Linked DNA regions of Homo sapiens. The protein of the gene in region 1 purifies or fractionates together with the protein of each later gene. This does not show direct contact. Each region holds a gene or a part of one and is shown on either strand. Other genes may lie near its edges. The genes, in order: ACKR5, LMBRD2 and FASTKD1.

Region 1 (3,754 bases):
CAGCAGGCAGTGGCGCCGGCTCTTGGGTTGTCCTGGCTGCCGCAGCCGGCAGGCTGTCAGCACATTGAAGACTGTGATGAGAGGGAAGGGCAGCAGGAAGCCCAGGATGGTGGTGGACAGGGCCACCGCCAGGGCCCAGGTGCTGTACGTTTCAAAAGGTGCCATGAAGAGGCACATGGGCTCAGGGCCCTCCACCAGCTGGATGTGGACCACCTCAGGCAGCGGGATGATGGCCGAGAGGACCCAGATGCCTGCACACATGGCCCGCCGCACTCGGTGCTGGTAACGCTGCCAGGAGGGGGAGGCGCTGGTGAGGGTGACATAGCGGTCGACACTGAGGCACACCAGGAAGAAGATGCTGCTATACATGTTGACAAAGTAGAAGTAGTGAGTGAAGCGGCAGGAGAAGCTGCCCCAGAGCCAGGTGTAGTCCAGCGTGACCTCCAGCATCCACACGGGCAGAGACAGGACAATGCCCAGGTCCGCGATGGCCATGTTGAGGATGTAGAGGTTCATCAGCCCTGCCCGGCCTGAGCCGCGCCAGTTGACGCATATCACCAGGAGGTTCTCCACCAGCCCAACCACAAACATGGCCAGGTAGAGGGCAAAGAGGACCACGCGCTTGGTGCTCTGGCTGAGCTCCACGTGGCACTCAGACAAAGTGTGGTTGAAGAGGTCAAGCAGCTCGGTCCAGTTGTGGATCTCTCCAAGGTCACTGGTAGGCACTGCGGTGACCCCCTCCGAGGGGCCAGGCCCCCAGCTGGGTTTCACTGACATTGGGACCAGCACACGCCTATTGGGATGAAGGGAGGGTTGGAAGGGAAAGCAGACCTCGAGAGCCTTGTGTCCTCAAGGTAGAGGCCAGAGGGAGTCGGGGGCTTTGGGGAAAGATTCTGGGGCTAAGGCAAGAAAGGGAAGTTTAGCTTTCAAACTGTGAATAAATAATACACAACTCACTTGCTAGCTCTGACCCAAGAGCAGAGATACTTTCTTAAGGGGTTTCAGCTGGAAGAGGCCAGGACTGTTGGTGTCCACCAACATTTCTCCCCACCCCCAGCCAGTTCCCCCTCAACAACCCCCTCAATCCCCCCACACCCACCATTCCTAGGTGGTCTCCAACCTCCACCTCTCTCCTGGCACTTCATTCCTCAGCCCTTTTGCACAGATCTTTATTGCTCTTTTTCTGTCTTGTTATTTGGACCGTGAGTGTGGAACACACACACACACACGCACACCACACAATCTGATTCATCCCTAGGAAAACCTGTGGATCATGCAGGATAGCCAGTTGTCTCCAAGCCCTGATTCCCATCTTCCCTGGGAGAGGGCGACACTCACCTGAGTTTCCCTTGGGAGCCCCTCGGTCCTGGAGGGAGGGCCGGCAGGTCCAGGCTATGGGGAGCTGTGAGGAGGCTGGGGGGCCCTTGGCTGTGGGGCTGGCTTCCCTGCTGGCTTCACGGCCGCCCTTCTCATCCGGGAAGTAGCTGTCACTGCTGAGGCTCTGTAGGGAGGGATGGGGTTTTTCCTGCATTCCCCCAATCCGGTTACAGGGGATGTCCCAGCAAAAGACCCGGTGTGCCAGTGGCGGGGAGGTCATACTGCCAGCATTAAAATCCCAGCTCCTCCCTCACCCGCTGAATGAATTTACCTCTTTCCTCAGCCTCAGTGCTCTCCTCTGCAAAGTGGGGTCTATTATCTACTAAAAGGGATGCTTTGAGAATTAAAGGAGCTGTTGAGGGAGGGAAAGTGCTTAGCTCAGGTGGGGCCTGTGGCAAATGCTTTACGTATGTATGTATTTTCCTCTCCCTAAGTCAGCTTGGAATCCCTCTCTCCCCTGTCTTGATTCCTACTAGAGTGAAATTGGATGTGGGGGTATAGGGGAGGGTCAAAATAAATCTGAACATCAGTTGGGCTTTTAATAACTCTGGCCCACCCCTGCCATTCTCCCCAGCCCCTCACAGGGCTGTGAGCTCCCTGCCTTCATCTTGTGATTGGAGGTGAGAATCTGGGAAAGAAAAGATTGAATGGCTGGGCATGGTGGCTCACGCCTGTAATTCCAGCATTTTGAGAGGCTGAGGCAGGAGAATCGCTTGAGCCCAGGAGGCGGAGGTTGCAGTGAGCTGAGATCAGGTCACTGCACTCCAGCCTAGGTGACAGAGTTAATAAAAAAAAATAAAAATAAGATTGAATGCGGGGTGTCAAGGGGGCTTTGTCAAAGCTTCAGGGAGATTCCTGAGTAGGGAGGGAGAGAGAGAATGGCGCCCTCCCCCTGTGGCTCTATACTTCTCTGCGTGAAGGGTGTGGTGGGTGGCTGGCAGGGGATGAGCAGGGGATGGGGCGTGGGGTAGGGAGAGCAGACTTCTCTCTCCCGCCAAGCTAGAGGGTAAGGGACTCTAAGCCACGTGTTATGGGTAAACATTTTGTGTCAGCAGAGCTTCCTGCCCTTCAGAGCGCTTTCACCTCACTTCATCTCGTTGGATTCTGGAGATACCCCTGTGGGGAGGATGGATTTCTTCACCCTCTTTGAGGCCCAGAGAAGTTGTCTGTTACACAAGCCACACTTGGCAGATGGCAGAGTGGCCTAGGCCTGAGCCAAAGGTGTGTCGGCTGGACGGGATTGAGTATATATTAAGTCGAGGTGAAATTCCCATAGCATAAAATTAACCATTTTAAAATGTGTGATTTAATGGCATTTAGACATGCACATTGTGCAAACACCACCTCTGTCTACGTGCTAAACATCTTCATTACCCGCAAAGAAAACCCCATAACCATTAAGCAGTCAATCCTATTCCCCCCACCACCAACCTTCTGCTTCCTGTCCCTGTGGATTTACCTATTCTGGATACTTAATAGAAAGGGAACCATATCATATGTGACATTCAGTGTCTGTGTTTTTTTTTTTCCACTTAGCATGTTTTCAAGGTTCATTCACTTTGGAGCATGCATCCGTACTTCATTTCCTTTCATGGCTGAGTAATATTCCCATATATATATATATATATATACACACACACACACCACATTTTCTTTATCCACTCAAAGAGAACATTTTTTAAAAGTTTGCTCACTGATTCTTTTATTATGGTAAAATATATGTAAGGTTTACCACGTTAACCATTTTTAAGTGTACAATTCAGTGGCGCTAAGTGCATTTACACTGCTGTGCAACCATCAGCACCATTTATCTCCATGGAAGGGAATATTTTTCATTTTGTAGTTTTGTAGTTTTCTTAAACCTTCCACTTACATATCAGATCACTCCAAGATCACAAAATCTATCATGGCCGGTGCAGTAGCTCACACCAGTAATCCCAGCATTTTGGGAGGCCGAAGTGGGAAGACTGCTTGAGCCCAGGAGTTTGAGACCAGCCTGGGCAACAAGATGAGACCCCCATCTCTACAAAAAATAAAATAGCCAGTTGTGGTGGTACAGTCTGTATTTGGGAGGCCGAGGTGGGAGGATCGCTTGAGACTAGGAATTCAAGGCTGCAGTGAGCCATGATCACCCTGCTGCACTGAAGCCTGGGTGATGGGATCTAGAGAGCTAGATCCCATCTCCTAAAAAAAAAAAAAAAAAAAAAAAATAATGGGCTAGGCTAGGTGGCTCATGCTTGTAATCTTGGCACTTTGGGAGGCTGAGACAGGTGTATCACCTGAGGTCAGGAATTCGAGACCAGCCTGGCCAACATGGTAAAACCTTGTCTCTACTAAAAATGCAAAAATTCCAGGCGTGGTGGTGCATGCCTGTAAT
Region 2 (3,754 bases), on another chromosome or scaffold:
AATGATAAATGTGAACATAGCTTTCTGAAATGAAAATCTTTTATAAAGCAATACCAGAAGCATAAAAAAATCCAGTTACTACAAAGACTGAAGGAATACTATATCACCTGATTATAGTACACATGCTAAATACACAGACACGCATCACTTGAAGTATAATCTTAATCTTATACATGCAAAAATCCCCCACGAGTTTGCAAACAGATTTGAAAAAGCACTTTTTACATTCAGTTATGTCTAGTAAGTAAGCCTTGTTTTAAGACACGAGTTTTATGAATACAGTTATTATTTGAGGTCTCCATTCACTTACATTTCTTTGGGAAATACAGGTTGAATATACTTTTTAGAAGTAACAAAAATGTAAGTCACAATAACAAAACTGTATATAATATTATTTAGTATGACTTATGGCTTCCTTGAATCTTTAAAATAACTCTCTTGAAAAAAAATTAATCTGAAACAAACTGAACTGCATGTTCTTAACATATGTTGATCTTTCTTAAAGTCCTTCCACTGTAACTGTATTTCTAAGGCAGATGCTTAGGAAATGATATGTAATAAATCTTGTTGAAAAAGGTGATACTCTATTCAATGCACATTAAACTATTATTCCTAAGATATAATTAATTCTCAGTGCCTTTTTTGTTATCTTGACACTTTTCACTGTGTATAGAGGAAATTCTAGGGTACACAGATGTTCATCAAGACTGAACTGATGTGTTGACCTTGGTTAGTGGTCCCACAAACTTTTTCAGACTTTAAACATCATTAAATATGTCACTGCGAGACATCGAGAGATATCGTCCACCAGGCTGATACCTAAAAAGGGAACATAAAGAAATGATCTGAGGCATCAAAAATAATAAAGGAAGAGAGGAAAACAAGAATACATTAAAAGGGAGTGGCCATATAATTTGTAAGTACTGTAAAATCTAGTCAGTAGCTGAAAGCAGAAACTTACCCTCCAAGTATATTATCCAAAAGGACTTAATTATAAATCAACCAGCAACGGTTTTAGACCCTAGAATATATGCATGACAGAGTGAGAGATGTAAAAAGAAGGGGGCAGGGGATGTAAGACACATCTGGGAGATTAATCAATTCAATAACCACTCTCAATTGTTGCAAATAAATATAACCTAGGTTTTTACTGCATATAGGCAATACTATAGTAAACATTTTCGTGCACATGATATTTTGCTTTTATTTAATTATGTGCTTATAGCATAATGGCTAAAAGTACAGACTCTGTAGCCAGAATACTGGACTTTGAATGCCTGACTTGCCATTTACAAGTTGTGTGACTCTGGGCACTTTACTGAGCCTCTCTGGATTTAAATCCAGCTGAATTTGCAACCATACAATTACAATATTTTTGCTAAAGGACTTAGAATAGTGTCTGGCATCTAGACACTGCTATGCAGCAGTTACTAAATATAATAAATTTCACAAATGGGACAATCAGAAATAGGCATATAAATATTGTTGTGATCCTTTGCTATATATTTCAATTATTCTTTCTTATTTATAATACCACTAGTATTGTATGAAGATAACAATTTTAGTTACCATTACTGGATGATATAAAAGCATTAGAAAGTCTAAAAAGGTATCAAAAGTTACTTAATATATTTTTTATTGTTAGTGAAAATGAACATTTTCCTTTACTTATCACTTGTTTACTTTCACCTTTACTTACTTATTTTCAATCTTGTCAAGTCAATGTGTTATTAAAAGTGTAGAGGAATGCTAGAGCTAAAATGTCACAGCCAGAACTTACCTTCCTGATTCAGATTCAAGAGGATCATCAGTGAATGTTTCTGCATTAAAATCCAAAGGTTCTGCATCTTGGAGAAGTTCTATCCGGTCCCTTTCAGTCCTGTTATTAGCCCTGGTATATTTGAATGCAGCTGCAAAGGAAGGGGGAAAAATGTCTACTTCCCTACTGTCTTTTAACTTATGGGTCACAGTCTATGGAGGTACAGAAAGAAAAATCAAAATTCCAAGGAATCTGAAGACAAAGAACATAAGAAAAGATAACTACATGGTTCCTTAAAATCAGATTAAAATTATAAGCAGTATAATAGAATATAGCAAGGAAAAGTTCTCTAGGCTTGTAGTTAGCTAAGAAGCTCTCTAAGCTCAGAAGCAGACACAGTGCAAACATTTCATTAGTGTAACTCAGAATTAACATTTAACTATGGTATCACAATGGTGAAACTGTTTATTAACAAAAGTAGTTTGAGTTGGTTTTACAGTAAACCTCATTTCTTGGCTAGGACTTTAATGTGTAATCAGCTCAAACTCTTAAAAAAAGGTGTGTCTTTTTACCATAAGGCAAGAGTATGGGTAGCACTAGCCAACATCGGCACTAGCCGATATTTAATTAGAAATTTTCTAGTAGCTATATTAAAAAGTAAAAAGAAACAAGTGAAATTAATTTTAATATATTTAAACACAATATATCCAAAATATTACCATTTCAACATGTTGCAAGTGCTCAATAGCCACGTGTGGCTAATGATTATCATACCAGACAGCAGATAAAGAAAACTAACTCTCCCTTCTCTATGTGGATAGGGATTTCTATATAAACAAACCAAATTTTCACAATGTTGTTCAGAGGAGTCCAAGTAGATTTACAACAGCTTTATGCTATAGTTCTTTCTGAAAACTTAATGCAAGCCAATTCTATCATATTTACATTTTTGTAAGCTTGGACTCTGTCCCAAATGCAAATCTCTTCATCTTTTCTCTCACTCATTCAGCAAATCGCAATTGCCCAATACATGCTAGATTCTCTCTAATTCATCATCCTATGACTTTGTGACTCCTCTTCTTTTAAGCACTCTCCCGTCTTGCCAGGTCTTTCTATTCTGTAAACTTCTTCCACTCTATGGTAAGCAAGCATCCAAATCCCTTTACAGAATCCTATTTCCTAGTTTTAACTAAGCCTTTAGCCCTTTCCTATTTATTATACCCTAAAGTCCTTCAAATAAATCCTTTTCTCTTCATCTCCAGGACAACTGCCTTATTTTAGACCATAATCATTTCTTGACTGTATTACCAAACAGTCTCTGAAATGGTTTCTAGTCTCACTTCCCCAAGAATTATGCTTTATACTGCCATCAAATTCATCTTTCTAAACCAAAAATCTTATCATGCTTCTTCCCAGATTGAAATCTTACCTTTAGGTCAAAATCCCAACTTTTTTTTCTTTCGTTTTTTTTTTTTTTTTTTTTGATGGAGTCTTGCTCTGTTGCCCAGGCTGGAGTGCAGTGACATGATCTCGGCTCACTACAACCTCCTCCTCCTGAGTTCAAGTAATTCTCCCATTTCAGCCTCCTGAGTAGCTGGGATTACAGGTGCATACCACCATGCCCAGCTACTTTTTGTATTTTTAGTAGAGATGGCGTTTCACCATGTTGGCCAGGCTGGTCTCGAACTCCTAACCTTAGGTGATCCACCCACCTCAGCTTCACAGGCATAAGCCACCGCGCCTGGCCCCAAATCCAAACATTGGAGAATGACAATATCTGTTCCCCAACTACTCTGTGGCCTCCTCTCTTATTAGCCTCCCCATGCTTAGGCTTTAGTTAGAGAAAAACATGCATTTTCCCAAAGGTTCTCTCATGCCACAACGTCCTGCACTTAGTCTCCCTTCTAATTAAAATACCCTTCACCTGGCTAGGTACTATTCCTTCTTAAATACTCAGCTAAACATGTCCTTATTACAGAAATATTTCTTCATTAT
Region 3 (3,754 bases), on another chromosome or scaffold:
AGATTGCTTGAGCTCAGGAGTTCCAGACCAGCCTGGGCAACATGGCAAAACCCAATCTCTACAAAAAACTTAAAAAATAAGCCAGGTGTAGTGGTAGCTACTCCGGCTGAGGAGGCTGAGGTGGGCGGATCCCTTGAACCTAGGAGGTCAAGGCTGCAGTAAGCCATGCTTGTGCCACTGCACCTCAGCCTAGGCAGCAGAGCCAGACAAAAAAAAAAAAAAGGAAAGAAAGAAAAAGAAAAAGACAACCAGCCTTGTGTGCCTCCTGAGAGGATGCAGAAAGAAGTACAAGCCACTTATGAAGTTTTTGGCCAAAAAGAAAAACCTAAAAAAAAAACCTAAAATCTAATCAAATCTCTAGATATCACTAATGGTTTACAGCAAACCCAGGTTTACAGTAAAAACATTAAAAACTATCAGATGACATTTTAAATGTTATCACAGGGCTGCAATTAGAAAAGTTCGAAATGTGGAAAAAAAAAACTTATTCTCAAATTTTAAGTTAAAAAAAGAAGTAGGAAAGGAAAAGTTGAACCAAAAACTGCAAACCAACCAAGTGGAATGTTAAGATCCCAATTTGGACAAACTATAAAATAAACATAAAAGACACTTAAAACAGGAAAAGCAAAGGTATAGGGGTGCAGTGCATGAGACGTATGAGGAATAGGTTCCACTGCCTTCAATCCTTCACCATTGAGTTCATTATAGTAGGCCAAATCTAACATTTCGATAAAATGTTAAATTTTATCTAAAATTTCCCATATCTCCCTACTTATGTTACATTTCCCATAATTCCCATAAATGTTCAATTTTATCTAAAATTTCCCATATCTCTCTACTTATGTGACATTTCCCATAATTCTACTACCTTCAATCCTTGATCATTGAGTTCATTATAGTATGCCAAATCTAACATTTCAATAAAATGTTAAATTTTATCTAAAATTTCCCATCTGTCTACTTACGTTAAATTTCCCATATTGCTGAACATTTCTTAAAAGATATTAAGAAATTATTATTAATGGTTATAGGATGATAAAGATGATATTGTTGTTATGTTTTTTAAGTCATTCTTATCTTTTAAATATACTTCCTGAAATGATGTCTGTGATTTGAAAAGAATCAGATGGAACTCTGGTGAAAAACTCAGGCACTGAACCATCTTTAAATTAATTATGAAAGATGAAATATATAGAATTCATTAAGAGAATGAATTCTAGAGCCAGAATGCCAAGCTCAAATCCTGGCTCTGTCATTTGCCAGGTATATAACCTTGGGCAATCAATAATGTTTGTGGACTTTAGTCTCCTCATCTGCAAATAATTTACATACTTCATAGGGATATAAGTTTACTATATGCATACACACACACAAGTACTTACGAAGTACTTAAAATGGTGTCTAACACATAATAAGCAATATATAAAAATAAACCTATTATTGTTGTTATATGAAATTGCAGCATTGTTTGACAGATGGACATACCAGCAAAAAAATCTTACAGATTGATTAAATCATAGCATACTCAATGAAATATGCAGTAACTAAAAAAGATGTTGTATAAGCATATCTGTTGGCATAGAAAAATATTCACAACATATAAAGTTATAAACTGCTATGATCTAAATGTGTCCCCCAAAATTCATCTGTTGAAACATAATCATCAATGTGTTAATAATAATAGTGGGACCTTAGGCCAGGCGTGGTAGCTCACACCTGTTATCCTAGCACTTTAGGAGGCAGAGGCAGGAGGACTGCTTGAGCTCAGGAGTTTAAGACCAGCCTGTGCAACATGGTGAAACCCCATCTCTACAAAAAACACAAAAATTAGCCTGGTGTGGTGGTGTGTGCCTGTAGACCCAGCTACTCAGGAGGCTGAGGTGGGAGAATCACTTGAGCTCTGGAGGCAGAGGTTGCAATGAACCGTGATCATGCCACTGCACTCCTGCACTGCACTCCAACCTGGGTGACAGAACAAGACCCTTTCTCAAAAAAAAAAAAAAAAAAAAAAAAAAAAAAGAGGCAGAACCTTTAGGAGACGATTAAGTCATGAGGGCAGAGCCCTCATTAATAAGATTAGTGACCCTATAAAAGAGCATCCTCTGTTGCCTTCCTGTCCCTTCTGCCATGGGAGGACACAGCATTCAAAGTACCATCTTGGAAGCAGAGGCTAGGTCCTTAGTAGATACCAAACCTGTTGGTATCTCGAGCTTGGACTTCCTAGCCTCCAGAACTGTGAAAAATAAATTTCTGTTGTTTTTTTTTTTTCTTTTTTTTTTTTTTTTGATACAGAGTCTCACTGTCGCTCAGGTTGGAGTGCAGTGGCACGATCCCGGCTCACTGCAACCTCCGTCTCCCGGGTTCAAGCGATTCTCCTGCCTCAGCCTCAGGAGTAGCTGGGATTACAGGCGTGCGCCACCACGCCCAGCTAATTTTGTATATTTAGTAGAGATGGGGTTTCACCATGTTAGCCAGGCTGATCTCGAACTCCCAACCTCAGGTAATCCGCCCGCCTCTGTCTCCCAAAGTGCTGGGATTACAGGCGTGTGCCACTGCGCCCGGCCAAATTTCTGTTGTTTATAAATTAACCAGTCTCAGGTATTTTGTTGTAGCAGCAGAAAAGGACTAAAACACAAACACTACAGAAGAAAACCTTTTTGTCTTTTTTTTTTTTAAGTTAGGAAAACAGACACCAAAAGCAAACAGCGGCTATATCATGGGTAATTTTTCTTTTTTGTTATCTTCCTTTTCTAGTTTTTCTATGTTAAGCATGTCTCATGTAATTTTTTTTTAAGAGATGGGGTTATATTCATATTGTTCTGAAGAAAAAAAGAAAAATATTAAAAAGAGATGGCTTCTCACTATATTGCCCAGGCTGGTATCAAACTTCTGGGCTCAAGTGATCCTCCTACCTCTGTCTCTCAAAGTAGCTAGGATTACAGGCTTGCACTACCATGCCCAGCTTCAATGTTTGTTTTTTGTTTTGTTTTGTTTTGTTTTGTTTTAGAGACAGAGTCTTGCTCTGTCACTGAGGCTAGAGTGCAGTAGCGTGACTGTAACTCACTGTAGACTCAACTCCTGGGTTCAAGAGATTCTCCCACCTCAGCCTCCTAATGGGACTACAGGGGCATGCCACCATGCCTGATAATTATTTATTTATTTAGAGACAGGGTCTTACTATATTGCCCAGGCTGGTCTCAAACTCCTGAGCAATGGGACTAGAGGGGCATACCACCATGCCTGCTATTTATTTATTTATTTATTTATTTATTATTTGTTTATTTATTTATTTAGAGACAGGGTCTAACTACATTGCCCAGGCTGGTCTCAAACTCCTGAGCTCAAGCTATCCTTCCACCTCAGCCTCCCAAAGTGCTGAGACTATGTGTATGAGCATGAGCCACTGTGCCCAGCCAATTTATGGATTTTTGTCACTCATACCCAACTCAATCCTGATTAACATAAAATCAAAGGAAAGTTGTGTTTTATAGCACAAGATGAGAGCATTAATGATTATCTAGTTCACCTTCCTGCCCAGTGCAAAAATCACACACATCTATCATCTGAATACTCAGCCTCTGCCTCAACATTACTTCTTCAGAAAGCAGTCAATAATTCTCATTATACCAAGTTAAAGTCTGCTTCCTTTCATTTTTACCATTTTGTTCATCTTTGAGATAGAGATATCTAGTTCTTCTACTTAACAATCCTTCAAACATTTTAAAACATTATGGTCCCCATAAGACTTCTATTT

The links.
Region 2: the proteins of ACKR5 (region 1) and LMBRD2 purify together in Homo sapiens (co-immunoprecipitation; 2 studies listed by BioGRID and IntAct, with this or other methods). This does not show direct contact.
Region 3: the proteins of ACKR5 (region 1) and FASTKD1 purify together in Homo sapiens (co-immunoprecipitation; 2 studies listed by BioGRID and IntAct, with this or other methods). This does not show direct contact.

The regions. Positions count from the first base shown.
Region 1 is NC_000012.12:56,992,233-56,995,986, reverse strand, and holds the start of ACKR5 (G-protein coupled receptor 182), read right to left. Parts: upstream 1,496-3,754; 5' UTR 1,339-1,495; intron 794-1,338; 5' UTR 778-793; coding exon 1-777. UniProt on the Homo sapiens protein: Orphan receptor.
Region 2 is NC_000005.10:36,103,288-36,107,041, forward strand, and holds part of LMBRD2 (G-protein coupled receptor-associated protein LMBRD2), read right to left. Parts: intron 1,911-3,754; coding exon 1,781-1,910; intron 820-1,780; coding exon 759-819; 3' UTR 1-758. UniProt on the Homo sapiens protein: Recruited to ligand-activated beta-2 adrenergic receptor/ADRB2, it negatively regulates the adrenergic receptor signaling pathway. May also regulate other G-protein coupled receptors including type-1 angiotensin II receptor/AGTR1.
Region 3 is NC_000002.12:169,532,195-169,535,948, forward strand, and holds part of FASTKD1 (FAST kinase domain-containing protein 1, mitochondrial), read right to left. Parts: intron 1-3,754. UniProt on the Homo sapiens protein: Involved in the down-regulation of mitochondrial MT-ND3 mRNA levels which leads to decreased respiratory complex I abundance and activity.